Linked DNA regions of Homo sapiens: regions 1, 2, 3, 4, 6 and 7 are each reported to be linked to region 5. The links are microRNA targets in miRTarBase. Many come from high-throughput screens and were not tested one by one. Region 5 holds a microRNA gene; each other region holds the end of a gene's coding sequence.

Evidence for each region. Region 5 holds the annotated microRNA hsa-miR-4728-5p (UGGGAGGGGAGAGGCAGCAAGCA, at 2,924-2,946, opposite strand). A microRNA usually pairs through its seed, bases 2 to 8, with sites in the 3' UTR of a target mRNA and lowers its output. Matches are read on the target gene's strand: a 7mer-m8 pairs with bases 2 to 8, a 7mer-A1 pairs with bases 2 to 7 and ends in A, and an 8mer does both.
Region 1: the mRNA of TCTN2 is a reported target of hsa-miR-4728-5p. Seed matches in the 3' UTR shown: 7mer-A1 at 3,057-3,063, 7mer-A1 at 2,924-2,930, 7mer-A1 at 2,911-2,917 and 7mer-A1 at 2,772-2,778.
Region 2: the mRNA of KBTBD12 is a reported target of hsa-miR-4728-5p. Seed matches in the 3' UTR shown: 7mer-A1 at 1,196-1,202, 7mer-A1 at 1,164-1,170, 7mer-A1 at 1,031-1,037 and 7mer-m8 at 443-449.
Region 3: miRTarBase lists DSN1 as a target of hsa-miR-4728-5p. The part of its 3' UTR that is shown has no 7-base or 8-base seed match.
Region 4: miRTarBase lists DPYSL5 as a target of hsa-miR-4728-5p. Seed matches in the 3' UTR shown: 7mer-m8 at 448-454, 7mer-m8 at 1,239-1,245, 7mer-m8 at 1,685-1,691 and 8mer at 2,371-2,378.
Region 6: miRTarBase lists C1D as a target of hsa-miR-4728-5p. The part of its 3' UTR that is shown has no 7-base or 8-base seed match.
Region 7: miRTarBase lists GPATCH3 as a target of hsa-miR-4728-5p. Seed matches in the 3' UTR shown: 7mer-m8 at 914-920 and 7mer-m8 at 924-930.

What each region holds. Positions count from the first base shown.
Region 1 is chr12:123,706,950-123,711,024 of GRCh38, reverse strand. TCTN2 (tectonic family member 2) reads right to left here. Exons shown (of 18, transcript NM_024809.5): 17 at 3,952-4,040; 18 at 2,626-3,421. The coding sequence ends at 3,312. Among named protein-coding and RNA genes, the nearest start is that of ATP6V0A2, 3.4 kb to the left of the region's middle.
Region 2 is chr3:127,983,778-127,987,777 of GRCh38, reverse strand. It overlaps KBTBD12 (kelch repeat and BTB domain containing 12), which reads right to left. Exons shown (of 6, transcript NM_207335.4): 6 at 112-3,681. The coding sequence ends at 3,500. Among named protein-coding and RNA genes, the nearest start is that of SEC61A1, 67 kb to the left of the region's middle.
Region 3 is chr20:36,749,228-36,753,295 of GRCh38, forward strand. DSN1 (DSN1 component of MIS12 kinetochore complex) reads right to left here. Exons shown (of 11, transcript NM_001145315.2): 11 at 2,568-3,670. The coding sequence ends at 3,561. Among named protein-coding and RNA genes, the nearest start is that of NDRG3, 5.2 kb to the left of the region's middle. RefSeq lists a silencer at 1-186.
Region 4 is chr2:26,946,681-26,950,755 of GRCh38, forward strand. DPYSL5 (dihydropyrimidinase like 5) reads left to right here. Exons shown (of 13, transcript NM_020134.4): 13 at 230-3,671. The coding sequence ends at 315. LOC124905979 (a long non-coding RNA gene) reads right to left here. Exons shown (of 3, transcript XR_007086251.1): 3 at 3,835-3,901. Among named protein-coding and RNA genes, the nearest start is that of MAPRE3, 22 kb to the right of the region's middle. RefSeq lists an enhancer at 2,889-3,389.
Region 5 is chr17:39,725,367-39,729,441 of GRCh38, reverse strand. MIR4728 (microRNA 4728) reads right to left here and starts at 2,947; the gene lies at 2,881-2,947. ERBB2 (erb-b2 receptor tyrosine kinase 2) reads right to left here. Exons shown (of 27, transcript NM_004448.4): 22 at 4,040-4,075; 23 at 3,589-3,735; 24 at 2,783-2,880; 25 at 2,439-2,627; 26 at 1,895-2,147; 27 at 784-1,753. The coding sequence ends at 1,398. MIEN1 (migration and invasion enhancer 1) reads left to right here. Exons shown (of 4, transcript NM_032339.5): 4 at 1-932. RefSeq lists an enhancer at 2,167-3,139.
Region 6 is chr2:68,039,595-68,043,669 of GRCh38, forward strand. It overlaps C1D (C1D nuclear receptor corepressor), which reads right to left. Exons shown (of 5, transcript NM_173177.3): 5 at 1,536-3,459. The coding sequence ends at 3,295. Among named protein-coding and RNA genes, the nearest start is that of C1D, 21 kb to the right of the region's middle.
Region 7 is chr1:26,887,671-26,891,745 of GRCh38, reverse strand. It overlaps GPATCH3 (G-patch domain containing 3), which reads left to right. Exons shown (of 7, transcript NM_022078.3): 7 at 520-1,258. The coding sequence ends at 736. It overlaps GPN2 (GPN-loop GTPase 2), which reads left to right and starts at 1,463. Exons shown (of 5, transcript NM_018066.4): 1 at 1,463-2,060; 2 at 2,621-2,777. The coding sequence starts at 1,650. RefSeq lists enhancers at 1,120-1,389, 1,900-2,069, 1,425-2,302.

The DNA.
Region 1 (4,075 bases), not on the chromosome of region 5:
TTTCTGCCACTGTGGTATCTCCAAGCCCCAGCACATAGTAGCCACTCAATAAATAGTTCATGAATGCATACATAAATGTATAAACTTAAAAAAGTTAAAACCATAGACACTCCAGACCCCATTCTGCCAAACTGAGTTTTTTCCTTCTTTTAAGTACAAAAGGCGTCCTCACAAAGCCCACAAAATCAAGCTAAATTACCTGTCATTTGGAAGTTTTAAATTTATTTTCCATAAATACCTGAAATCCAAAGCTAGTTACACTAGGCTGGGTGCCCTGGCTCACTCCTGTAATCCCTGCACTTTGGGAGGCTGAGGCAGGTGGATCACTTGAGGTCAGGAGTTTGAGACCAGCCTGGCCAACATGGCAAAACCCCGTCTCTACTAAAAAAATATAAAAATTAGCTAGGCGTGGTGGTGGGCACCTGTAGTCCCAGCTACTCGGGAGGCTGAGGCAAGAGAATCGCTTGAACCTGGGAGGTGGAGCTTGCAGTGAGCTGAAATGGCATCCCTGGACTCTAGCCTGGGCAACAGAGTGACACTCTGTTTCAAAAGAAACAACAACAACAAAAAGATACAGTAAGAACTGTGAAGGTGAATTCAAAGGCTGAAGTTCAGACAATAATTGACTCAGACCCCAGCTCCGTCAGTCCAGTACTGACCCAGATTCCTGAGTCAGCCCTAGAGGGGTCGGGTGAAGGCCCAACACCACCACAGTACAGATGCTGAAATTCACGGTATTTCCATCATGCAGAAACTTAGGACCTCTGCAGTGACTAGCTCATCCCCCTATTTGAAAGTGGACTCAGGCCGGGCGCAGTGGCTCATGCCTGTAATCCCAGCACTTTGGGAGGCCGAGGCGGGTGGATCACGAGGTCAGGAGATCGAGACCATCCTGGCTAACACAGTGAAACTCCGTCTCTACTAAAAATACGAAAAATTAGCTGGGCATGGTGGTGGGTGCCTGTAGTCCCAGCTACTCAGGAGGCTGAGGCAGGAGAATGGCGTGAACTCGGGAGGCGGAGCTTGCAGTGAGCAAAGATCACGCCACTGCTCTCCAGCCTGGGCAATAGAGCAAGACTCCGTCTCAAAAAAAAAAAGAAAAAAGAAAATGGACTTAAGACTGGAGGAAAATTTGAAATTGCCCCTGGGCAGGAACTCTGCAGCGAAGATGAAACAGCACATTTTATGTGGTGCTGGGTATCAGCAGGCACTAGGAATTCGATCAAAAAGTATAAAAGGGAAAATAATTATTTTTCAAAATTAGGCTTAAATAACATAGAAAATCCATCTGAAACAACTAAGTTACCTGGCACACAAAGAAAACTTACAGGTGATGTGCCATGTGGCCACTGTAGGACCGTGGCTAAAAACATCTATTCCAGGGCTGGGCACAGCAGCTCATACCTATAATCCCAGCACTTTGGGAGGCTAAGGCAGGTAGATCACTTGAGCCTAAGAGTTCGAGACCAGCCTGGGTAACATAGGGAGACCCCCTTCTCTACAAAAAAAAAAAATACAAAAACTAGCCAGGTACAAGCCTGTGGTCCCAGCTACTTGGGAGGCTAAGGTGGGAGGATCACTTGAGCTCAGGAGGTCGAGGCTGCAGTGAGCCGTAATTGTGCCACTGCTCTCCAGCTCTCCAGCCTGGGTAACAGAGTAAGACCGAGTCTCAAAAAAAAAAAAAAAAAAAAAATCCATTCTCCCCACTGAGTGGGGTTGACTGTTCCCATGTGACGGCCCATGGGAGAAATTTGTCAAGACTCAGCTAGGAAAAACTGTCCTTCATTGATAACCAGTTAATTTTTAATGAATAGATTTCATAATTCCTGTATTAATGAATAGATTTCATAATTCCTATAGCTAATCATACTTGGGTTTTTGTAAACTGGGGTCTTGGTTGGGCATAGTGGCTCCTGCTGGTAATCCCAGCACTTTGGGAGGCTTAGGTGGTAGGATCGCTAAAGCCAGGAGTTTGAGACCAGGCTGGGCAACATAGCGAGACCCCCATCTACTAAAAAAAAAAAAAAAAAAAAAAAAAAAAAAAATAGCCAGGCGTGGTAGCTGTGTGCCACCTGTAGTCCCAGCTACTTGGGGGAGAATCGCTTGATCCCAGGTGTCTGAGTTTACAGTGAGCTATAATCGTGCCACTGCACTCCAGCCTGGGCAACAGAGGGAGAACCTGTCTCCAAAAAACAAATAAATAAATAATGAATTAGGGGCCTGCTTCTGCTAAAGGCAACCTCTGGCATGTATTTTAGGGCTTACATGTGCCCCTGGTTTTGTTTTACTTTTCTCTTATTATTTTCCTCCCGCAGCCCCCATATCTTTCCCCATCAGTGATTTTGTGTTTTTGTATTACATGCATTTTTAAGGATTTCTTAATCCTTTCTACGGAATATGGGAAACATCAATCAACACGAATGTATTAAAAACTAAAGAAAAGACTGATTCTCTCTGGTATAAATAAAACTCCTATGACTTTAACTAATTTGTGATAAGCTAAAATTTCTAACATTTTTGAGTTCTTCTCATGCATTTTACTCAGTTCAGGCCAGCGATGAGAATATTCATTCTGCATTGGATAGCTACATATATGAATTAAAGTCACAGGGCACTTAATAAAAATTTTCTACAAAAATAAGACATTTCATTTATTAAAATTTTATAGAGAAGCATACAAGACTACAACAAATCACTGAAGTCAAGGTCTAAAGTCTTTGAGAAGTCAGATGGACCGGACGCAGTGGCTCACGTCTGTGATCCCAGCACTTTGGGAGGCCGAGGTGGGCAGATCATCTGAGCTCAGGAGTTACAGACCACCCTGGGCAACAAGGCGAAACCCCGTCTTTACCAAAAATACAGCCAGGCATGGTGGAGCATCTGTGGTCCCAGCTACACCAGAGGCTGAGGTGGGAGGATTGCTTGGGAGGCAGAGATTGCAGTGAGCCGAGATTGTGCACTGCACTCCAGCCTGGGTGACAGAGACCCCGCCTCAAAAAAAAAAAAAAAAAAAAAAAGGCCGGGTGCGGTGGCTCATGCCTGTAATCTCAGCACTTTGGGAGGCCAAGATGGGCGGATCATGAGGTCAGGAGTTCGAGAGCAGCCTGGCCAATACGGTGGAACCCTGTCTCTACTAAAAATACAAAATTAGCCGGGCGTGGTGGTGCATGCCTGTAATCCCAGTTCTCCGGAGGCTGAGGCAGGAGAATCGCTTGAACCCAAGAGGAGGAGGTTGTGGTGAGCCGAGATCACTTCAGCCTGGGCAACAAGAGCAAAACTCCATCTCAAAAAAATAAAAGCCAGGTGGTTGTCTAACTATAGGCTTTGCATATTCTGGTCCAGGGGTTGCTGAGGAACAAGGCCAATGTGAGGAACAACAGCAACAGTAAGCCCTTAGCAACACACTGAGAATGCAGCTCCCCTGAAAAACAATGGACAAAATTCAACAGCAGTATTTCTTAACTCTTTTGATAACAGTGTAGGTATAGGCTGGGTGTGGTGGCTCACTCCTGTAATCCTAACACTTTGGGAGGCCAAGGAGGGCGGATCACTTGAGGCCAGTTCGAGACCAGCCTGGCCAGCACAGTGAAACCCCGTCTCTACTAAAAATACAAAAATAGCCAGGCATATTGGTGCTGTAATCCCAGCTACTCCAAAGGCTGAGGCACGAGAGTTGTCTGAACCCAGGAGGCAATGGTTGCAGTGAGCTGAGATTGTGCCACTGCACTCCAGCCAGGGTGTCAGAGCAAGACTCTCTAAAAAAAAAAACAGTGTAGGTAGAAATAAACTAAGCCAAAACAGTAATGGTGATCACTTCCAAGTGGCAATATTATCCGTACTTTTTTTTAAGTTTCTATATGTTTTATGCTTTCTGTAACATTTAGACATCATTTAAAAAATTTTTTTAAATTGACATAACATAATTGGTCATAGAAATCTGTTTCACCCTACCTTGATAATACTGAGTCCATGGATATAGAAGCTGCGGCCAACACACCTCATTTCTGTTGCAGTCATACTCTGTATAATTGATCTGGAATCTAGAAAACATTTTAGAGGGTTACAAAAACTACAA
Region 2 (4,000 bases), not on the chromosome of region 5:
CTCACAGCCCTGCCCCGGGCCTGCTGCTTGTCCCCTGGCCATCACTCCCCAACTCAAGGGACCCTCAGCATCTCCTGGAACTGCAATGTGAAAAACAAAATGAAAGTGATCTTTTATTAGTAAAAATTTATTCCTTAAGTTCAAATGTGAAACATTTGCTCATTATGAAGTCAGGGAGAACAATGCCACCGTGTTGAACACACTGGGGCAGGCTGTGGTTGACAGCTGCAGGCTTCTGCCAGCCTAGCATCCAAATTACTTCCTTATTGTGTTTCCTTGCTCAGTGTCAAACAATCCTGTCACAAAGATAAGAATTAGCAGATAGTAGAAGTTTTATAAGAGCCCATCATGCAGTACTGCAACAGCCTTCTATTAAAGTGAAAACAGGAGTGATAGGAATATATTTCGAAGTTGAATTTCTAACGATATCTGGCTGCAGGTGGGGAGGGTCATGTTGTTTTTAATTGCAAATACAGAAGTCAGACAAGAAGCACCAAGAACTTAAAATAAGCACTAACCCAGGCAAGCAATCTGTTGTATGGAATCAAAGAAAAATCAAGATCAGACATCTGAAATCTGTGAAGCACCGGTTTCGACCTCGGGGATTCCTCAGAAGAAGTTTGAGAAATCCTGCCCTTGATGCCTGCTTCCCTTCAGTGCTAAGCCAGCTCCTGGTCACTGCCCTCCTGGCTCCAGCAGAGGTCATGCCCCTTCTCGGTCCTCCCTTGGCACTCTCTGGAAAGTTCCACTGGGACACTGCCCAGACCTCGCATTAGACAGGAATGATGTTTACCCACTTATCTTGCCTCCCACAGGCGGGCGATGGTCTCACCTAGCGTGACCCTCAGGTGCCTCTGCTGAGCTGCCACAGGGTCCTGAATGTGTCCATTGAGGGCATCGGGGGCCTCAGATCCGAGTAAACCCTTGCTTAACTCTCAGCCGCCAACTGGAGGAGCCAAGCAACAGGGTATGGGAAATTAAGAACCATCTCAGCCAGGTGCAGGGGCTCATGCCTGTAATCCCAGCACTTTGGGAGGCCGAGGCGGGCAGATCACGAGGTCAAGAGATTGAGACCATCCTGGCCAACATGGTGAAACCCCGTCTCTACTAAAAATACAAAAATTAGCTGGGTGTGGTGGTGGGCGCCTGTAATCCCAGCTACTTGGGAGGCTGAGGCAGGAGAATCACTTGAACCTGGGAGGCGGAGGTTGCAGTGGGCTGAGATCGTGCCACTGCACTGCACTCCAGCCTGGCGAGAGAGAGAGACTCCGTCTCAAAAAAAAAAAAAAAAAGAAAGAACCGTCACAAGCCATATGCACATCTGCCCCACTTCCCTAAAGCACTGAGTCTGTTTTGGGCACCTTGCTTTGGGAAGTGCTGACTGCAATGATAATGACAGTGATGATAATAATGGCAGCTAAAACATGCTTATTATTTCAGGATTTCACAGGCACTTTGCTCAGCACTTAATCCTCATACCAACCCTATAAAGTATGTATTAATATTTTCCTTCCCACTCTGCATATGAGGGAAATGAGGCTTTAGAAAGGTCATCTTGCCCAAGTTCACATGGTTAGCTAAGTAGCAGAGCGGGGGCTGGAACCCAGATCTTGAACCCAAAACATCTAGGAGATGTGCCATGACATGCCAACAAGGCCTCCTTGAGCCAGGGAGACGCGGCAGCTTTCTGGACTTTTCAAGCAGGTGGAGCAGGTGGAGTGACTATGTGAAGAGGAATGGAGGGAAGTGGAGGCCCTGTGGAGGCCGTCCTCAACCCTGGCCGCCGACAGCCAACACAGCAGCTAGGAGGAACATCTTTGTAGCAAGAAAAAGAATGCACAGATCATGATCATCCACTGGGGAAAGAGTAAGCTCACTTTAACTCAGATTCCTGGACGTGCTCGGGGCCCAGGCCCTCTGATTGAGAAACACTGCCCCATGCCGGCCACCCAAGAGGTCACCCACATGCCAGGTACTGTGAGTGCACTTGGGGCACAAGTGCGAAGAGAAAGGCGGGACCCCCACCCTCCCGAGTTGAGCCTACTTGGGGCCAACCTACGCTGGGTCTCCTGGTCCCTCTCCTTGGTGGCAGAAATAGGTTTCCAACAGGCTCCAGTTTTGGCAAGACCTGCCTGTCCTGCCTGGTGGGCAGCTGGAACCTAGGGGCACAGGCTAGCGGTCATCACAATCACACAGCTCAGCACCAAAGAAAGCTGTCTCTACTTAGGGTTTGTCTCCCTCTGAATTTACTGACCACTCCTGCTTCCAAAAGAGCCTTGTGCAATGTGAAACTCTTTGGAGAAGTTGCTGAAGAAGAGCTATGAAGATGCCCTCATTGAATCCACTGTGCTTCCAGAATTAGAGACGGGAAGTAAGATAGACGGACTTCCCATGTGTCATTTAAATGTTATTTCTAACATATATTTTGGGAGTGACTGTCTTCTGATTATGCTCAATTGTGGGCTGAAGTGGGTGGCTCCATCTTTATTGCAAAGGCCGGGCCATGGGGTTGGCAGCAGCTGGAGGAGATGCTTCTTCCCCTGTCCTCAGCCAGAGCCTTCTCTGTCCCTGGCTTGGGTGGCTTGGGCGAGTCCTGTTCAGCCAGGACTACCCTGCAGATGGTTGTATGTGTCTGAGAGGTGGGCAAAGGCAGCCTGGGTCAGCCCACTCCAGGACACTCCCTGCCAGCCCCGGAGTGGACCAGGCTGCAGAACCCCACATCCCTGTCCCGGACAGAGTCAGCCCAGGGCAGGATTCTTGGCCACTGTGGTCTGGCTTGAGTGCCTTGGTTGTTAGGGGCTGGTAGTACAGCTAGCCCTGCTGCTGGGTGGCGTTGCTTCAGTAGAAGGGGATTCTGAAGGAGAATGGTCAGTGTTTATAAGACTGAAGCTGGAACAGAGCACAGAGAGAAGTCTCCCTTAATGCACGATTTTGAGACAATTCCCTGGCTTACAGACCAGGTCCAACTCCTCATTCTTTCAGGCGTTGGTCATCTAGCTACAACCTACTTTTCCAGCCTTGACCACAAACCCTGTGCCCCAGGCAATCTGGCCCAGCCAGGATACTGCAGACAGGCACGAGCTTTCTGTCTCTGGGCCCTTGCTTGGCTGTTTCCATGAACTCATCATTGACTGCACCCATGGGACCACTTCCTCCTCATCCTTTTGGGGACCCAATAAAAGGTCTGCTCCTTGGCAGTGCTGTTCATGGGTCCCCAGCAGAGTGAGACCCTCCCTCTGCTGCTCTCCTGTGGCCCTGTGCCCCTCCTGTGGCCGTCATCACCTCTTCTTTGTAGTGTCTTATTTACCCTATCAGGCTGGGAAGTCCCTGAAGGGAGACTCCCCATGCTCCCCACCCAGTGCCCAGCACACACTGCTTCTTCACACACAGGCCACTACGCATGCAGTGCACATGACTGGCATGACAGAGATGCTGTGGGCCCTCTCCGTTCTGAAGGCCTTGTTTGCAGAACAGCAGGAGGTCCTCCAGCAAGGTCACCTTAGTGCTCATTGCCTTCTTCCACCAAATCTGAAGGCGGGGGGATGAGGTCTCGGGGATTCATCCTGGCTACTAGGCAGACATCATAGCTGTCATGCATGAGGACGTTGATGGCTACAACATTCCACTGGTTTTCCCATGGGTCCAGTTCCAATATTTCTTTGGAGATAACCTCATGGCGATCTGAAAAACAGCAAAGTGGGAAGACAAAAATCTCATGTGGGTATTAAATTCAGAGGCCATCAGCACCATACTGAGTAACTTCCTCCAAAAGGCAATGTCTTAGTCCACTTGCTGTTACTGTTAACAGAATACCCAGGACTGGGTAGTTTATCAAGAAAAGACATTTACTTGGCTCACGATTCTGGTGGCTGGAGAGTTCAAGACTGGGGATCTGCATCTGGTGGGAGCCTTGGCTGTTTCAACTCATGGCAGAAAATGGAAGGGGAGTGGGCATTTGCAAAGAGGTCACTGGGACAGGGAAGGAGTAAAAGAGAGAAAT
Region 3 (4,068 bases), not on the chromosome of region 5:
CCTGCAATAACCTAACTGGTCTCCCACACCCATACCTTGCTATCTTTTCCCCACACCACAACTAGAGTACTCTTTTAAAAATAAAGTTCTGATCTTCTCGCCCTTTCTTGAAGCCTTCTAATGACTTTCAATTATACTTGTCTCAGGCCAGTCTTCTACTGGTGCCCAGCACTCCTGCTTTATTCTTTTTTTTTTTTTTAAGTGTCCCAGCATGCTCCACTGTCCTCCTCAAGCCTTTGAAAATTGCTTCTCCTTTTGCCTGAAATACTTGCCCCATTTAACTCCTTCATCTTTCCCATGTCAGCTAAAATATCTCTTCTGCAGAGTTTTCTCTTGTTCCTTGTATCGTCAGCAAACTGAGCATCATGAGAGAGAACCCATGTGTTTTTGCTCTTTGCTCCCTCCTCCAATCCTAGAACTGTGTGTGGCATATGGCGGGTACTCGGTAAATATATAAAGGAATAAAGAACAAATGTAGGTCCAAGCAAGGAGATGTCATTTCTCATTAACTGGCACTTGCGCCAAGGTTTAAGACTTAAGATTATGACTGGGTGTTTAACTGAAATGGGATTTGTCCCTTTAGTGGGATCAGAGAATAAGAAACATTTTATTTTGGCTGAGCACAGTGGCTCACACTTGTAATCTCAGCATTTTGGGAGGCTGAGGTGGGTGTATATCTTGAGTCCAGTTTGAGACCAGCCTGGGCAACATGGAGAAACCGCATTCCTACGAAAGTACAGAAGTTAGGCCAGGCACGGTGGCTCACGCCTGTAATCCCAGCACTTTGGGAGGCTAAGTTGGGTGGATCACCTAAGGTCAGGAGTTCAAGACCAGCCTGGCCAACATGGTGAAACCCCATCTCTACTAAAAATACAAAAATTAGCCAGGTGTGGTGGTGCATGTGTGGAATCCCAGCTACTCGCAAGGCTGAGGCAGAAGAATCACTTAAATCCGGGAGGCAGAGGTTGCAGTGAGCCAAAATGGCACCACTGCACTCCAGCCTGGGCAACAGAGGGAGACTCTGTCTCAAACAAAACAAAACAAAAATTAGTCAGATGTGGTGGTGCACACCTGTAGTCCCAGCTGTTTGGGAGGCTGAGGTGGAAGAATTGCTTGAGCTCAGGAGGTTGAGGGTCCAGTGAGCCATGAGCATGCCATGGCACTACTGCCTGGATTTATTTATTTATTTAGCTTGTTTTTGAGCCAGGGTCTTGCTGTTGTCTAGGCTGGAGTGCATAGGCACAATCATAGCTCGCTGCAGCCTTGAACTCCTGAGCTCAAGGGATCTTCCCGCCTCAGCCTCCTGAGTAGCTGGGACTACAGGCATGAGGACTACAGGCACACACCATCAAATTTTAAAAAATTTTTAAATTTTTTGTAGGGACAGGGGTCTCACCATCTTGCCTAGGCTGATCTTGAACTCCTAGCCCCAAGTGATCTTTCCACTTCAGCCTCCCAAAATGCTGGATTACAGGTGTGAGCCACCATGCCTGGCCAGAATAAGAAACGTAAGTAATAAATTAGATGGTGGGTTTTTTTGTGTGTGTGTGGCTTTTTTTTTTTTTTTTTTTTTAATTTTGAGATAGGGTCTCACTCTGTTGCTCAGGCTGGAATGTAGTTCTGTGATCATGTCTTGCTGCAGCCTTGGCCTTCCGGGCTCAATTGATCCTCTCACTTCAGCCTCCCAAGTAGCTGGAAATACAGGTATGCACCACCACTCTCAGCTAATTTTTGTATTTTTTGTAGACAGAGTTTTGGCATGCTGCCCATGGCTGGCCTCAAACTTCTGGGCTCAAGCGACCACTCACCTCAGCCTCCTGAAGTGCCTGGCCTAGTTGGTGTTCTACTGATAATTAATGCAGAGGTATATCTCAACACTACTGTTCACTTCAGCATCTTGGCAAAGAATCCTATTTTCTGTTAAACCCTCCTAGTTTTTTTGGTTTTTTTTTTTTGAGATGGAGTCTCGCCTTTTCGCCCGGGAAAAAGCACTGCCCAGGAGTGCAGTGGCACTATCTCAGCTCACCACAAGCTCTGCCTCCCGGGTTCAAGTGATTCTCCTGCCTAAGGCTCCCAAATAGCTGGGATTACAGGTGTGTGCCACCATACCCGGCTATTTTTTTATAGATATGGGTTACCATGTTGGCGAGGGTGGTCTCGAACTCCTGACCTCAAGTGATTCACCTACCTCGGCCTCCCAAAGTGCTGGGATTACAGGTGTGAGCCACCATGCCCAGCCCTCCCTCTTTTTTTTTTTTGAGACAGTCTCACTCTGTCGCCCAGGCTGGAGTACAAGGGCACGATCTCGGCTCACTGCAACCTCCGCCTCCCGGGTTCAAGCAATTCTCCTGCCTCACCCTCCTATCTGGAACTACAAGTGCACACCGCCACGCCCGGCTAATTTTTTGTATTTTTAGTAGAGACAGGGTTTCACCATGTTTCCCAAGCTGGTCGTGAACTCCTGAGCTCAGGCAATCTGCCCGCCTTGGCCTCCCAAAGTGCTGGGATTATAGGTGTGAGCCACCGCACCCGGCACTCCCTTTTTGTTTATACACTCAAAACATAGATGAAGACAAGGGAAAGCTTTTAATTATGTGCAATTTTATAATACAGATTATAAACAAATAGAACAATGAATAGTAGTACTTACTCCTTTCTTGTCATGAATCCAGGATTTAGGTCAACTCAATATGAAAAACTGAAGCACACTACAGACAACAGGACATAGAGAATGAGTGGTATTTCCTTCAAATTGAACATCTTGTGAAGTGACATATGTATCCCAATGATGCAAATAATGCTCAAAACTTTTTTTTTCATTTTTTTACAATTTTTAATTTTTTTTAAGACAGTGTCTCACTCTGTCGCTCAGGCTGGAGTGCAGTGGCGCAATTAGAACTCACTGCAGCCTCAACCTCCTGGGCTCAAACAATCCTCCCACCTCAGCCTTCTGAGTAGCTAGCACTACAGGCACACGCCACCACACCCAGCTAACTTTTTGTATTTTTTGTAGACAGGGTTTCACCTTATTTCTCAGGCTGGTCTTCAACTTCTGGGCTCAAGCAATCCACCCGCCTCAGTCACCCAAAATGCTAGGATTACAGGCGTGAGCCATTGCGCCCAGCCTCAAAACTCTTCTACCTAAAATCACCTTCAGAGCCATGCTAGAAAATTAGTATCATTCCTTTACAATCGGAATCCAACTTGGCCACTAAAATGTTTCCTTAGACTTGGTCCTAAATGATTTTTGGATTGTTTCAAAACCTGAAAAACACCTTCACAGGATAAAGATAAAAGAATGGGCCACTGGATCTGAAGATCATTTCAAAAAAGAAGTTTGAACTTTCAAGCATTTTGCACATTCCTGGGAAAATTGTCTATACAATATTCATTTGGATGTACAAATTCCATCACTTTTTGAAAAAAGTCAAAGTGTTCTACAGTCAGTCCTGCCAGTTATCTTCAAAGGCAACGAGCAGAAATCACGCAGTCACCACGTGCTGGGGCACTCTTCCCATTCCTCTCCTCTTGGGCACCTTGTGGCAGAAACTCTCATAAAGTCACTGACAAGATCCAGATCCAGATCCATGTATGGCAGGTGGGTTCTGTAGCTGAAGCTTCAACAGTTTTCGAGCTGGTGAGGGATCTAATTGTTGCATGCTTCTCTTTCCTGCAGAGAAAAGAGGCCAAAAAATAAATTTCAATTGAAATAACGTAACATTTATTGAAAACTTAATGTAGGGACATTGTGACACACATGGAAGGGCATTACAAAGACAAATAAGAGAGTCTCTGGCCTCAAGGAGATGACAATTTGGTAAGAATGCCAGCCACAGCTGGGCATGGTGGCTCACGCCTGTAATCCCAGCACTTTGGGAGACCAAGGCGGGACGATTCCTTGAGCCCAGGAGTTTGAGACTAGCCTGGGCAACACAGTAAGACCTTGTCTCTACAAAAAAAAAAAAAACAATTAGCCTAGCATGGTCCTAGCACGATCCTCCAACTACATGGGAGGCAAGAGGATCACCTGGGAGCCCAGAAAGTTGAGGCTGCAATGAGTCATGACTG
Region 4 (4,075 bases), not on the chromosome of region 5:
TGAATCAGGAAAACCTGGGTCCAAGTCCAGGCTCTGCCACTTACACACTGCAACATGGGGCAAGTCACTTAACTTCCCTGAGCCTCTGTCTCCTCATCTATAAGATGGGATGGAGTGGCTGTGAGGATTCACTCAGGCCATGCACACAGTGAGCCTCCAGGAGAGGGTGTCTGTGGTTTGTTAGCAGGCACAAGAGCCCGTCTCACCCTCTGTGCTTCCTTCCCTGCAGGCTCTCAGATCGATGACCATGTTCCAAAGCGAGCTTCAGCTCGGATCCTCGCTCCTCCCGGAGGCAGGTCGAGTGGCATTTGGTAAAGGCATTGCCAAGCCCCCCGAGTGAGGACGCACCGCCGCCACCAGCCCGCAACTCTCCAGCCGAAGCTGCAGGGGCAGGAGAGGCTGGGCTGGGTGGCACACCACCCGAGGGGGGCCCCGGGACCCACGGAGCCCTCCCTATGTCTGCAAAGTGATTCACTGTGCTTCGAGCCAACTCTAACAGGCACTTTGAGATGTGTTCCTCCTGCTGTAGTCCTTTCTGCCTTGGCCTCGGCGGGCTTTTCTGGGGCCCAGGAAGCCCACACTATGCACAGAGCCCAATGCATAGAGCCCTGGCCAGCCCTTCCTCTCACTCCTGCCTCCGCTGGCTTTGGGAAAGCCCAGACTTTAGTGCCCTGCCCCCTGGCTGACTGGCCAGTTGCCCAGAGCACTTTAGCAGATGTGGTTTCAAAGTAAAGGCCTCCTCCCCCACCCCTTAGGCCCCGTGGTGACATTTCCCAAGTCAGACAGATGTCAGCTTCCCAGCCATGCCCAGGACGTCCTATCTCCCCCAACCCACCTCTGGCCCTGTGTAGGGGCAGGGATGGGGGTGGCTGGGACTCCTGGTGCCCCTCGCCAGCTTCTCCTGCGCCCCGCCCACACCCTCGGGGGGTCACAGGCCCAGAAGGGTAGCTGGGCGGGGCTCGAGGCTGGTGCCAGGCGCGTGTAAATGGTTTTGTTTTGCACGTTTGGTTTGCGCAGTAGTTTGGTTTGACTTGTTTGTGCATCCTGTGAAAAATAACGGTGCTTGTGTCACTAGCATAGAATAGCGACAGGAATAGATGTGGTCCTTAGGAGACGCTGCACTTGACACCAACCAGACAGCACAGGGCAGGGGTGGTGGAGGGGGCTGGGCTCACAGGCCTCTCTTTTCCCCGCCTGCAGTCTTCTGGGCTGCGGGAGGCCCTGGCCCTTTCCCCTTCCCCTCCCCTCCTTGTCTAGTTTCCCACATTCCAAAAGGGGGCCTGGGATGCTAGCCCCAGAGATGCCAGCCCTTCAGGAAGCAGGTGTCCTTTCCCCTCTCTGCCCCTGATCACTCCCAGCACTCCCCTTGCCTTCCCCTGTCTTCACCTGCCACCACACACACACACACACACACACACACACACACACACGCACGGCTTCCTATAACTTCTTCCTGCTGGACAGAGACTCAGCGCTCCTCCTGTGTGACTGGCAAGAGGCCTCATGCCTGCTGAGAGAGGAGGAGTGGGAGAGGGGCTTGCCAGACACCAGAGAGGGAGACCCCAGGCCCACAGGACCTGGCTGTCGAACCCGCATTGCTGCTCAGGTGCCGTGATCTCCCGTGGTCGGCACCAGGCCCTTGCCAGCTCATGGCCTCATCTTCTCCCCTGTCCATCCAGGTGGGCCCTCCCTGCTTCTAAAGCCCCACAGAAGTTCCCATGGAAACACTAGAGGCCGGGTGTCTCCTTCCACCTCCAGTGATCTGGGAAGTGACCCAGCCGCCTGCCCTTGTTAAGCCTGGTCTGCCCCGTGGGAAGTGACTTCATGTTGCACATGTGATTTCAGCCCCCGAGGCTTGCGCGAGGCTTCTGGACCCTCGGTTAAAGGTCAGCCCCTGGCCGGGTGCGGTGGCTCACGCCTGTAATCCCAGCACTTTGGGAGGCCAAGGCGGGTGGATCATGGAGTCAGGAGATCGAGACCATCCTGGCTAACACGGTGAAACCCCGTCTCTACTAAAAATACAAAAATTACCCAGGCGTGGTGGCGGGCGCCTGTAGTCCCAGCTACTGAGGAGGCTGAGGCAGGAGAATAGCGTGAACCCGGGAGGCGGAGCTTGCAGTGAGCCAAGATCACGCCACTGCACTTCAGCCTGGACGACAGAGTGAGACTCCATCTCAAAAAACAGACAAACAAAAAAGTCAGCCCCTGCACATCTCTGTAGTGCTTTTCATGTATTCAAACCACTTCCGTATATGACCTCTCACTTAGTCCTCATGACAATGGAGCACTTATTATTCTTCCCATTTTACAGATGAGGAAACTAAGACCCAGAAAGTTCAGGTCCTCTGACCCCAGAAGTGTCTGTGATGACCCTCCCAACCTTGGCTATCTACCCCACCTGTGGAGAGGAGGTCTGGGGTGACATCTATTGTAGATCCCACCTGAGAGTTTAACCAATGAGAAGACTTACTTTCCTGGTAGGCAGCCTGCTTTGTTTTGCACAGGAAGATAGATTTTTTTTCTCATCTTTCTTATAAACAACCTCATGCACATTCTGTGTTTGAGCCAAGACTAGTCACCCATTGGGGGCTAACCGTGCAGTGTGAGCTGCGTCCACACCCTCACTTCTCCCTTCACTCCCCCTTTCCTCACTCAGGGGCTGAGAGGACAGAGGTGGTCAGCCGGGGAGCAGAGGTGGCGAAGGGGCTCATGGCAAGTGGCAGCCATTGGAACAGGGGTGAGGACCCAGGCCTGGGAAAGCCACCAGGGATGGGGGAAACCATGACGCCGCCTCCTGGTGCAGTGCACACCATCTCTATCCCTGTCAGCCCTCACTGGGTCATGGGCCTTGGGCAGATGTCAAAGAGCCCAGCAGCAGCGGTGGTGGCCAGCTGGGCAGAGCATCCTTGCTTGGGCTAGGAAAGCTTTACCTTCTCTGAGTGCCTCCGCCTGAGAGATGTGTGACCCGTGGCACCAGGGAACCACGTCTTGGAGTGGTCCACTGTAGGCCATGCGCTTCATCCACCCCCAGTCCCTACATAGGCCCTACCCTTGCCCGGGAGCTTCTAGATAGAAATCAGAAAGAGATTCAAGGAGCCAAATGAGCGGTCAGCCCCCACCATGCACTCCTTGCCCCGTGCAGAGCTCCAGCCAGCTTCGTCACCAGCCCCACTGGCTCCTGGTTGGAACGAAAGGGTCTCTGGTTGCACTGAATGCAGCTCTCAAACTGGTCTTGTACTTGCTGAATAAATACTGTTGTTCTTGCCTTAGCTGCTCTCTAGGTTTGTGGGGTTAAGTTGCCAGAAAATTGTGCTACTGTGTGTGCGTGTGCGTGCGTGTGTGTAGTGCTAGGAGTCCACAGTAGGTCTCTGTCAAGCCGATGTCGTGATGAGGGCTTTTCTGATACTGACCCAGAAGCCACAGAACCACAAGGAAACCCAAACCCCCTCCAGCTGCTGAGGCGCAGGCACAGCCTGGGGTCGGATGGAGCCTCCAGCACCCCAGCACCCAGGTGACTTCCCCACTCCCCTGTAAATGTCATGGTGCTAAGACTGTGTCAACCCCAAGACGACACATGGTCCTGTGCTTTGGCCACCGTTTGAGGCAAAAACTAAACAGCCCGACACGTTGTGTTCTGGTGCAGGTTTGTATTAAACTGTAGCTACTTCTCACTTGGACTCTGTTGTGTTTCTTCAAAGAGGAGGGAGTTTGGCAGAGATCTCTTCTACGGTGGCTGGGCAAGGCTTCAGTTGCTAAGAAAAGGCAGCTTTGATCTGTCTCTCCTATTGGGTGGCAGCTCACTGGGAGGCTTGTGCAGAGACTGGATTTTTTTTTTTTTTTAATTCTGAGAGACAGGAGCCCCAGTGGTGCCAGATTTCCAGGGACAAGGTTGCCAAATTATCTGAAATAATTAGGAGGAAGAATTAGATGCAAAAGGGAAAAAAACTAGACTCACTCCATCTACCTATAGTCGCGTATTCTCTTGGCTACCATTTTGGAAGCCCATAGCCACCTCTCCACTCGGCAGAACGTTTGGCTGATGGAACGATGGCCTCATAAAAAAAAAAAATCACAA
Region 5 (4,075 bases):
CCTCTTTCCCCTACTTAGCTCCTTAGCAAAGAGACCCTGGCCTCCACTTTGCCCTTTGGGTACAAAGAAGGAATAGAAGATTCCGTGGCCTTGGGGGCAGGAGAGAGACACTCTCCATGAACACTTCTCCAGCCACCTCATACCCCCTTCCCAGGGTAAGTGCCCACGAAAGCCCAGTCCACTCTTCGCCTCGGTAATACCTGTCTGATGCCACAGATTTTATTTATTCTCCCCTAACCCAGGGCAATGTCAGCTATTGGCAGTAAAGTGGCGCTACAAACACTAATGCTAACTAGTGTGTGTTTTTATACGTCCAGTCTGGGAATGTGGGGGGCACAGAAGTCCGGTCAGCCCAGCCTTTGCACCGCCAGGGTGGCTGTGCTGGCTGGGTGGGCTTTCTGGACAGCTACTCCTTAGGTCAGTGAGCTCCTCTGGCATAGCCAAGGCAAGGAAAATGAGTCCCACAGTAGACCCTGCCTCGTCTTTCCCCCACCCTACCCACCACTCTCCTCACTCACAAGGAGGAAATAACCCCATTCTGGTGAGTGGCCTTAGGAATTAGTTCGTTCTAAATAAGAATGATCTGGTCGTCAAAGGGCTCTCAGATCTGAATCCAGCTTCCCGATCTCCCCCAACCCTGAAGCTGGAGAACTGGATGTCTGGCTCCTCATCCAAGCTTTCTGAAGATTCCCAGCCACTCCCTCCAGGAAAAGAGGAATTGAGTGTAAGGTGAGCAGGAAGGGATGGCACAGAGCCACCCCCAGACATAGGCCGGTGCCTAGCTGTTTTCCAAAATATATTTGCAAATGGACAAAGTGGGTGTGGAGAAGGACCCCCCACACTTGCCTCCCCATACAACACCCATTCTCCCCCTGGGTCTTTATTTCATCTTTAAAAAAACAAAACAAAAAAAGTAAAAACTAAACAGAAAAGCACTCTGTACAAAGCCTGGATACTGACACCATTGCTGTTCCTTCCTCATGGGGGGCAGTACTAGGTTTCAGGGACAGTCTCTGAATGGGTCGCTTTTGTTCTTAGACACTCCCTTAGGGCCGCTTCCCCTCTCAGGCCAGCTTCCCTAAGGCTTTCAGTACCCAGGATCTGGAAGGAAAGGGCCAAGCTGGGCTGTGGCATCCACTGGACCCTAGAGTCTCATTGGGCAGGGCCTCAGAATCCACAAAGACTCCCCAGTGCTGTTCCTCTTCCAACGAGGCTGGACCCCTTCCAGCCATCTGGGAACTCAAGCAGGAAGGAAGGTTCCTTAGGACAGGTTCCTGGCATGGCAGGTTCCCCTGGAAGTGGTCGGAGGGCCCTCCCACCTCTTGATGCCAGCAGAAGTCAGGCCTTCCCTGCTCCCTGAGGACACATCAGGGCTTCTGCGGACTTGGCCTTCTGGTTCACACTGGCACGTCCAGACCCAGGTACTCTGGGTTCTCTGCCGTAGGTGTCCCTTTGAAGGTGCTGGGTGGAGCCCCCCGCTCTGGTGGGTCCTGGTCCCAGTAATAGAGGTTGTCGAAGGCTGGGCTGAAGGCAGGAGGAGGGTGGGGCTGAGGGGCAGCTCCTCCCTGGGGTGTCAAGTACTCGGGGTTCTCCACGGCACCCCCAAAGGCAAAAACGTCTTTGACGACCCCATTCTTCCCTGGGGAGAGAGTCTTGGGCCTTTCCAGAGTGGCACCAGCAGGTCGGGCAGCAGGCAGAGGGCCCTCTCGGGGCGAAGGGGGCTGGGGCCGAACATCTGGCTGGTTCACATATTCTGAAAGGTCAAGAGAAGGTGACCCATTAGGGGAAGGAACCCCGGTGTCTCTGCCACTCCCTCTGCCCCCACAGTGGACCCTGGGCTGAAGGTCCCACCTCCCCTGCCCATCAGTCTCTCTGCTTAGACTGGACTCCATACCAGGCTGGGGGCTGCAGGTCAGGGGGGCAACGTAGCCATCAGTCTCAGAGGGCAGGGGTACTGTGGGGTCCTCACTGTACCGCTGTAGAGGGCTGGGGTCATGTGTGGGGAGGCTTTGCAGCCCCTTGGCTGCCCCCATTCCCAGGTCACCATCAAATACATCGGAGCCAGCCCCTTCGGAGGGTGCCAGTGGAGACCTGGGGGCCTCCTCTTCAGAGGGCTCCAGCCCTAGTGTCAGGTCCCCACCGCCACTCTGGGGACAAGAAAGAAAGTCATGATGGGGGTCACTCACGGATCTGGGATGGGGACTCCATGGAAGGTGACAGGGTCACAGGAGAAAAACAGAGGTCACCTTTGGGGTATGACACAGTCACCGTGGAGAGAATGGGGTCACAGGGGTTGGAAGGCAGTAAGAATTTTTTGTAGGGATAATGGGGTTTCCTTGAGAGGTGACAGTTGAGGGAACATCAGAGAAAGGGACCCTAGTCCACCGGGGTTGGGGGAGGTAAGCAGACAGCCACACAGTGTGACCGAGGGCACTGACCCTGGTAGATGAGCTGCGGTGCCTGTGGTGGACCATGCCCCCAGCGCCCGGGGCAGGGTCTGGACAGAAGAAGCCCTGCTGGGGTACCAGATACTCCTCAGCATCCACCAGGTCCCCCATGTCATCGTCCTCCAGCAGTGAGCGGTAGAAGGTGCTGTCCAAGGGACTGGCTGGGCCCAAGTCCTCATTCTGTGGAGGAAGGAGAGGCAGGATGGTGGCCCCTCCCCAGCCCAGCATGCAGCCTTCCGTGAGGGGCCTGGCATACTGGACTCATCTCTCCTTCCCACCCTCTGCAGGAGGGTGCTCTTAGCCACAGGCAGGGATGGGGCACAGAGGCCCAGTACCTGGATGACCACAAAGCGCTGGGGGTCCCTGGCCATGCGGGAGAATTCAGACACCAACTCCCGGAATCTTGGCCGACATTCAGAGTCAATCATCCAACCTGGGGCAGGAGGGAGGTCAGCATGCTAGTCCCAGGCCCTGTGTGCTTGCTGCCTCTCCCCTCCCACTCCCCCTCCAGTCTGGTCTAGACAGTCCCAAGGGACAGCCCAAAGCCCTCAGGTGGTAGAGAAGTAGCACCAGACTCTGGGGTCTTCAGCCAGAACCTTTGGCATCTCTTCTAGTTTCCCTTTTAATTTTTTTTTTCTTTTTGTTTGCTTTTTTATTTTTTTGAGATGAGGTTTCGCTCTGTCACCCAGGCTGGATTTCAGTGGTGCAATCATAGCTTACTGCAACCTTAAACTAGGCTCAAGTGATCTTCCTGCCTCAGCCTCTCCTGAGTAGCTGGGACTACTGGCACACACCACCACACCCAGATAATTTTTTTATTTTTTGTAGAGATAGGATCTCACTATGTTGCCCAGGCTGGTCTTGAACTCCTGGCTTCAAGGGATCCTCCCACCTCAGCCTCCAAAAGTACTGGGATTACAGGCATGAGCCACTGTGCCCAGCTTAATTTTGTACAAGAGTGTTCCTCAAGAGTGGCTTTGGACTTTGACTGTAAAAGGGATACAAGAAGGTTTTGAGGCTCCTAACATACTAGGGCTCCTGGGTCTACATACATCCTGGTCCCCTTTCATGCCCCTTGTGGGCTCCTCCACCCAGGACCTCCCACCCTCCTCCAGGCAGCCAGCACAGCTCAGCCACGCACATTTGACCATGATCATGTAGACATCAATGGTGCAGATGGGGGGCTGGGGCAGCCGCTCCCCCTTTTCCAGCAGGTCAGGGATCTCCCGGGCTGGGATCCCATCGTAAGGTTTGGCCCCAAAAGTCATCAGCTCCCACACAGTCACACCTAAGGCAGAGACAGGGTCAGGAGTGGGAGGGCCAGAGGGAGCTTTAGTGTACTGAGCCAGAGGTTCTGCTCAGGAGTCTAGCATCATGGCAGGTAGCAGGGGGAGATGTGATGCCAGGAGACAGACCCTACCCGGTCTTTCCCTAATCCTGGGAAGTGCACAGACCCTGCAAGGTGGGGCACAGGCAGCCCCTTCCCTCCCTTCACATGCTGAGGTGGCCCCGTAATTCTCCCCATCCCAGCTCTCATCCTCCCTCCAGCCATGGCTCCTCACCCACCCCTCCCAACACCCCCCATCACACACCATAACTCCACACATCACTCTGGTGGGTGAACCGCC
Region 6 (4,075 bases), not on the chromosome of region 5:
ATATAAAGTTAAAAATTAAACCTCAATTGCCAATAGCTATCACTATAGCTCTCTCTTTTCTGAACACTTTACTAATCTTTCTGGCTGTGTTAAAAATTATGCCATAATCTCAGACTTCTTGAGGGAATAATAAAAAGTTATGCCATAAATAAGCACTTTAAAAAGGCACATCAAGTCAGAGGGTGGCTATTCTAAAGAGTAGTCTATGGCTGTACACCCACTTTGATAGGAAAATGAATATGCAAACCAAAAAACATTCAAATCATTTTCTTGAAAGCCCGCTAACAGGTAATATAATAGCAAATTATTCAAATGAAACAAATCTACAGAATTCCATTATAAAATCCTGTATACTTTCTGCCAACATAGTTGTTAATGACAACTATAAAATGCTAATATATGAACAAAATATGGCTTGTATTTCCAAAACTGGAGAGTTTTAGATCAGAATATAGGGAAAGATAGATGTTTATATTTGTAAATTATGTTCACGTCACATTGATATAAAATACGTTGCTACCAAGATCATTCAGGAAAAGAGCCACTGAATTTATCTGAGCAGGTTTTCTAACTATGCTATGAAGGGAGAAAATGAGACATCAGTGCTTTTTCTTCCCTTTAGATACCAAATTTAGCTATTACATGAGGCTGAGTCACTGTTCACATCTTTCTTAGTTAATGTCACTTTGCAAAGCCAGAATTTCTGGTAACTTATTGAATAAAATTATAATTTAACTGTATGATAAACTGAGTGATTCCTAAAGTATCTTTTTCTCCAGTGACCTACTTAAGAAAAAAGTATTTACATTCAATACGCTGTCCATTTTTGAAGTCTTTCCTACACTTCTGGTCAATTTTAAATACCTTATTTAGAAATAATGCCAATCCATTTCTAATTGCTAAGTAGAAGGATTTTTTAATCTACAGGGTATCTTAAAACTAATCAACCTGACATAACTTCCTAATTCCAGGAATGTAACATAATTCAAGCTTCAATTTTTCACTCAACATATTCTGTTTTACTAAAAGGATTTCCCACCTTACAACTATGAACAAGAAAAAATTTGTACTTAAAATAATATTAAAATGCAAGATCTCATTATTTAGTACAAGATTAATAGACTATAATTCTAATCTTAAAAATATCTATAGATGCAACTTCTCCAACTTGTTAATTCCCAAAGAGATTAATAAAAGATGTAATTAACATCTAAACTTAGAGCAGACTATCATGTGGAACAAACTATTTTAACAAGAACTGCACCATAGTCAAATAGATCAACCACACACATCACCCTTTATGGTTCTGAATAAGGTTAATGAGCACAATTTGTCATAAATTTTCCCATAACTCTGAGAAACTGAATTGAATAAAAAGACTATTTTTTTCTTAACACCTTATAAAGATAGGATAAAGGCCGTAGTTATCGTCTTTGGAACGTTGCACCTAGCACTGTATCTGGCAATATAAATGTCATTAAGTATATTTGTCAAAAGAATAAACAAACAACAAGCAAATAAGCAACCCAATGCACTACAGCCATTCAGCTCCTTATTACGTGCTAAGTATTTAAAATTATACATAATAAAATGGAATATACTCAAACTTTTATTTCTACCTAATAATGAAAGAATTACTCACTTAAAAGTTACACAATTTAACAGAACGTAGAGGTGCACTTTCATAAACCAATAACTTAGCTAAAACCAATAATGATTTTCTGCAATTGTATAACATTTTTCATTTAAGCTGTTTTTCTTTTATGAAATTAGAAAATATACAGAAATCCAAATAAATTTCTTTGCAATAAATAACACAAAGACAGGTACACTACACTTGATCTTAACAGTAACACATTTCTCTCATGAAGAGGTTATTTTTAAAAATAGCTAGAAATTTGGAGACAAAGGCAAAAAAAGGAGTAAAATAACTATAAATGTTCACTAATGTTCTTCCACTTCAAAAACTGACATCAGAGACAGAAAAGACCTTCTGCGTCTATCAGTGACTTCCTCTTCATGTGTCATAGAAAGAGTTCAACATGCTTTACAAAATCCATTACATTTTAAGACCATTTCCAATATCTGCTATCATAAATCAAGAAATCCATTTATTCAAGGTTACTTATGGAGAATTAATCACACAGAAAATTTTAACAACTCCTTTTTCAAAAATTAAAGTACTTTACTATACTTGGCATTCCTACACATAATGATATGGATTCAAACACTGAAAGCATTAAGGGCATATAATTAAAATTCATGGGCTTAGACATTTAAAAAAAGGTTTACTATGTAGTACTCTCTGTAACTAATATTCCAGAAAAATAAACCACAATACAAACACAGTGTAATCTCCTTTGGACTTCTCATCTGCTTAAGTGGCATTAGGTAACTTAAGAAGTTGTTCCAAAACACTTGTATGTACTTGATACAGCCTCAAAAACATGAAATAAAAAAAATCTGAAAAAAAATGAGATGAAAAGAACTGTGGACACCATGCATCAGGAACAAAAACTCAAGAATTTCTCTATTTGTGATGACTTCTAAAACCTATCTTCCTAATTTGGAAGGCAAATTTACTCAAAAGATAAAAATACACAGGTCAGTTATACAACATTTTCAGCCTTTATTGAGAGTACAGTCATCATGCCAAAATTCATCCATCAACATACAACCTTATTTCCCATCTAAAGTTAATGAGAATGTATTTTATTTTAAATGGGACATAGAGGCAACATGCCAAGAATTAAAGTACAACCATAAAGTTTTAGTTTCACACTTTGAATATCAACAAAGCAGTAATTCCTAAAATCATGAAAACATGATAAAGTATCTATACAGAAAAAAATGAACATTTAAGTCATTTCACGCTTTCTTAATATCATATAGTGAAAACAGATGTACCTATAATTTCAGCCTACAGATAGCATACTTCATAAGGTCATTATTCATTTAAAATAGTACAAATGTTTACAAAGAACATTTCACTTAAATTTCACAGCTGCTTATAAAATGGTACTTGCAAGACTGACCTATATAAAGAAATAAGAGTCTCATCAAGAGATGGTAAATTATAAATATATAATATATCACAATGTTAAAATCCTCAGTGCTAATCAATAAAGATAATGATCTTTGGAGAGGAAAGTATTTAGCTTTACATATTTACTGTGAATTTACATATTAATAAGAAACACATTTAAACCTTGCCCTGCCACAGAATTATTTTGCGGGGGGGGGGGGGGGGGGGAAGATGTACTTTTTGAATATGTGTACATCAAAACCAAAAAGTTAACTTTTACTTTTTCCTTTATTGGCAACTTTTGATGCATTTTTCGATTTTGGTTCCCAGAGGGCATTTTTTACAAATCTTGAAGCTGCACCTCTGTCCAGCTTGCCAGCCTTTTTCTTGTCTGTTATTTCCTTGACTCTGTTCATATATACTCTGATTCTTTCCTTAAAGATAAAAAACAAAGGCAATAGATTTACTAAGCTATTCGCCACCACTGAATTTTATTATACTGTACACCTTGGTTAAATTCAACATATATGTATTTATTGCCTATTAAAGTGCATGGTGCTAGGAAATGCAAATGAATAGGATAAATACGCTCCCTGCTTGCCTGGAGTTCATAGTCGGAGGGTGGGGAAAGACAGATGTTAAAAAGTCATTTCAGAAGTCTTCTGTTTCCAAAGAGTTAGAATCACACTAAGACATTACTCCAGAAATAAACATCGAATTGAAAGTTTCTAGGTGGTTATACATTTTTGAAAAACACCATTAACATAAATCTACATATTAACTGTTTTGTATCTAAAGTAAAAAACCGGAGCTTTCATATACTTGCAAAATACAAACTAAATTCTCCTGAAATTTTTCTAAACAGGAAATACATGAGGTAGTACTTAACTATCTTTTCACATTACCATCTAGTGTAACAATTAGGGAGAATGAAAATACAAATTATTCAATTTTATAATTTTGGTAAGTACATGAAATTTTCTAATAAAATATACAGTTCTAATCAGACTTTACAGGGTGAGAAACATAATATGTTGCTGTACCACTGTG
Region 7 (4,075 bases), not on the chromosome of region 5:
ACAGAGCAAGACTCTGTCACAAAAAAAAAAAATTAGCTGGGCATGGTGGCATGCGCCTGTAGTCCCAGCTACTCTGGAGGCTGAGGCAGGAGAATCGCTTGAACCCAGGAGGTGGAGGTTGCAGTGAGCCGAGATCACGCCATTACAATCCAGCCTGGGTGACATAGTGAGACCCCATCTCAGAAATAAATAAATAAATAAAGTAAATCTGACTTTTTTTTTTTTTTTAAAGAGTAAGCCCTAAGGCTTAACAAGATCATTCATACCCTTTGTTGGAGGAGTTTGGACTTGATGGTTACTATTAGGAAGTCTGTAGTGACAGAATGAAAATTTTATATGAGGCCCCTTCTTGCTGGCACTGTCAATGGATAGATAAGAGGGCTGGAGAACAAAGACCCAGATTTAAAGCCTCTGTCTTTGGACAAACCAGATATGTAGTAACTACTTCCCCGTCCTCTCCCAACCCCTTTAACTGGAGTTTGAGAGCAGCCTTCTCACTGAGAGCCCGTTTTTATCCAGGTACCATGGAGAGAAGCTACAGCCATTTGGGCAACTGAAGAGGCCCCGTAGAAATGGCTTGGGGCTCATCTCCACCATCTATGATGAGCCTCTACCCCAAGACCAGACGGAGTCACTGCTCCGCCGCCAGCCACCCACCAGCATGAAGTTTCGGACAGACATGGCCTTTGTGAGGGGTTCCAGTTGTGCTTCAGACAGCCCCTCATTGCCTGACTGACCGGGTTGGGGGCTTCCTTTCATAGCTACATGATGAAAACCCTCTGCCCTGGCCTCATCTACCACTGAAGCAGAAAGGAGTCTGGGAGCAGCAGTCTTCGTGGCTGGTTCAGGGTGTTTTGTTCCGAGCCTGCCTGCCTGCCGGTTCTATACCTCAGGGGCATTTTTACAAAAAGCCCCCTCCCGTCCCCTCCCCTTGGATATTAGGGGTAACGACCGCTTGTCTTTGGTCTCTAACCCTAATCTCTGGGCTTGCCCTTTGCCTCCTGCAGAACTTTGAAAAGCTGGGTTGAGTGAGGCTATCAGCACAGCCTTCCTTGGGGACTCTGAAGGTGTCCCCACGAAGGCCAGAAAGGGGGAAAGGGACCTGGGCGAGGAGAGGATTTGTGGTGCTTGGAAGAGCCGGCCTTGGGTGGGCCCTCCACCGCCTCTACCCTCACTGGGTGGGACTGCCAGCGGAGAGTCCGCGGGAGGTGGCTTGGGTGTGCGACGTCACGGAAGAATAAAGACGTTTACTACTGGAGCTCCCTTACTTTTCTAATTCGAGTCTGAAGGTTAGAGAAATTCCGAGAGCGATTTTCCCGCAAAGACCCCACATTCGACCCACTACCCGCGAGAGAAATGCGGCTGCGCCGCCCGCCCCTCGGCGTCTAGCTTCGTCCCCGCCGTGAGGGCGGGACTTCCTCTCGTTGGCTCGCCGTTTCCGACGCTGTCCGGAAGTCGAGTTAGTCTAGTTAGTATCGGCCTGTTATCTCCTTTTGCGCGACACGGTCTCAGCTGTTCCGCCTGAGGCGAGTGACGCTGGCCGCCAACGAGGTATACGTACTGGGACCCTCGCCCTCAGTCTCGTCTCCGGCGCGGCTACCTGCCCCGTTTTCCCTGTGAGTTGACCTGCTCCGGGCCGCGGGCCGCCAATGGCAGGGGCCGCTCCGACCACGGCCTTCGGGCAGGCGGTGATCGGCCCGCCGGGCTCAGGGAAGACCACGTACTGCCTGGGCATGAGTGAGTTCCTGCGCGCGCTGGGCCGGCGCGTGGCGGTGGTGAACCTGGACCCGGCCAACGAGGGGCTGCCGTACGAGTGTGCCGTGGACGTGGGCGAGCTGGTGGGGCTGGGCGACGTGATGGACGCGCTGCGCCTGGGGCCCAACGGCGGCCTGCTCTACTGCATGGAGTACCTGGAAGCCAACCTGGACTGGCTGCGTGCCAAGCTCGACCCCCTCCGCGGCCACTACTTCCTCTTCGACTGCCCAGGCCAGGTGGAGCTCTGCACGCATCACGGCGCCTTGCGCAGCATCTTCTCCCAAATGGCGCAGTGGGACCTCAGGGTGCGTCTCAGGGCGGGGAGGCCCATTTTGCGGATGGAGTAACTGAGACAGGGAGGACAGACGCCACGCCCCCATGTCACACAGGGAGGTAGGGGCTGGGTCGCTTTGGAGTAAAACAGGCATGAGTTCAGAATCTGGCTCTGCTACTGACTGGCTGTGTGGTGTTGATAAGTCAGTTCATCACTCTGAACCTCAGTTTCCTCACGTGTAAAATGTGTTAGTAGCCAACTTGGCGATTTTGGAAGTATGGAAGGGGTTAATGTCGAAAGTGGCATGGAGATTGTTGTAAATTGGTGGGCAAAAGTAAATGAAAGAGTGGAGTCAGATGCCATGGGATTTAAACCCCTTGCCCACTGGGAGGCTCAGTGCAAGACCTCTTGTAAGAAAAAAAAAATGACTCCTATTTCCTGGGAGAAGGAAACCAGGGTGGTTATTAGAAAGAAACAGAGGCAGGAGACTAATGGGGAAAGCTTCCCCTCTGTCCTCAAGCCCTCATTCTCATGAGGGAATGCTGATCCCTGTTTCTCCAGGCCACTCTCACCCTGTCTATTCCCTCCCAGCTGACTGCCGTCCACCTCGTGGATTCTCACTACTGCACAGACCCTGCCAAGTTCATTTCAGTACTGTGTACCTCCCTGGCCACCATGCTGCACGTGGAACTGCCCCACATCAACCTCCTTTCCAAGATGGACCTCATTGAGCATTATGGGAAGCTGGGTAAGAGCTTCTGTTCCAGGCGAAGAGCAGGGCAGCAGCTGGGCTAGAATGAAGCAGACATCTCAGCTGAAGGTAGCTGCCTCTGGTGCCTTGCGTGGTCTGGTGATAGTAGCCACAGGCAGGTTCTAACTCCTGCCCATTTATTTTGTGCCACTCTGTGCTAGTTACCGTTGTAGATTTTGGAGACAAGAGAGCTACAGATGGTGTTAGGTGTTACAAAGGAATTAAAGTGATACGACAGTGAATATTTGGGAGTGAAGTGAGTGAGCTTTGGAGTAAAACAGGCATGAGTTTAAATTCTGGATCTGCCACTGAATCATCGTGTGGTCTGGGTAAGTCAGTTCATCTCTCTGGACCTCAGTTTCTCACTTCTGCTCTGAAGCAGTGGCATCTGAGCTGAGACATGAATGGTGAGAAGGAGCCAGCCAAGGGAGGACTGTTCTATGCAGAGGCACTAGTAGGAATAAAGGCCTTGTCTTAGTCAGTTTGTGCTGCCATCACAAAAATACCATAGACCAGATGGCTTAGCCAATAAATATTTATTTCTCACAGTTCTGGAGGCTGGTAAGTCCAAGATCAAGACACAAGCCGATCTGGTGTCTGGTGAGAGTCTGCTTCCTGGCTCCTAGACAGCCTCCTTCTGTCCTCACAGAAGGAGGCTATATTCTCACCTGGCACAGAGACAGAGAAGGGGTGGGAGGCCAGGGACAAAATAGGGAAGATTGAGGTAGAAGCAGGCTGGTATGAGGCAGGGGAGTTGGCTAGAGTCCCAGTGGCCAGCTTTTTTTTCTTGATAAATTAGTACTCTCGGCTGGGCGTGGTGGCTCACGCCTGTAATCCCAGCACTTTGGGAGGCCGAGGTGGGCAGATCACCTGAGGTCAGGAGTTCGAGACCAGCTTGACCAACATGGAGAAACCACATCTCTACTAAAAATACAAAAAAGTAGCCAGGCATGGTGGTGCATGCCTGTAATCCCAGCTACTCGGGAGGCTGAGGCAGGAGAATCGCTTGAACCTGGAAGGCGGAGGTTGTAGTGAGCCGAGATCTCGCCATTGCACTCCAGCCTGGGCAATAAGAGTGAAACTCCGTCTCAAAAAAAAAAAATTAGGCCAGGCGCAGTGGCTCACGCCTGTAATCCCAGCACTTTGGGAGGCCGAGGCAGGTGGATCACGAGGTCAGGAGCTTGAGAACATCCTGGCTAACACTGTGAAACTCCGTCTCTACTAAAAATACAAAAAATTAGCTGGGCATGGTGGCGGGCACCTGTAGTCCCAGCTACTCAGGAGGCTGAGGCAGG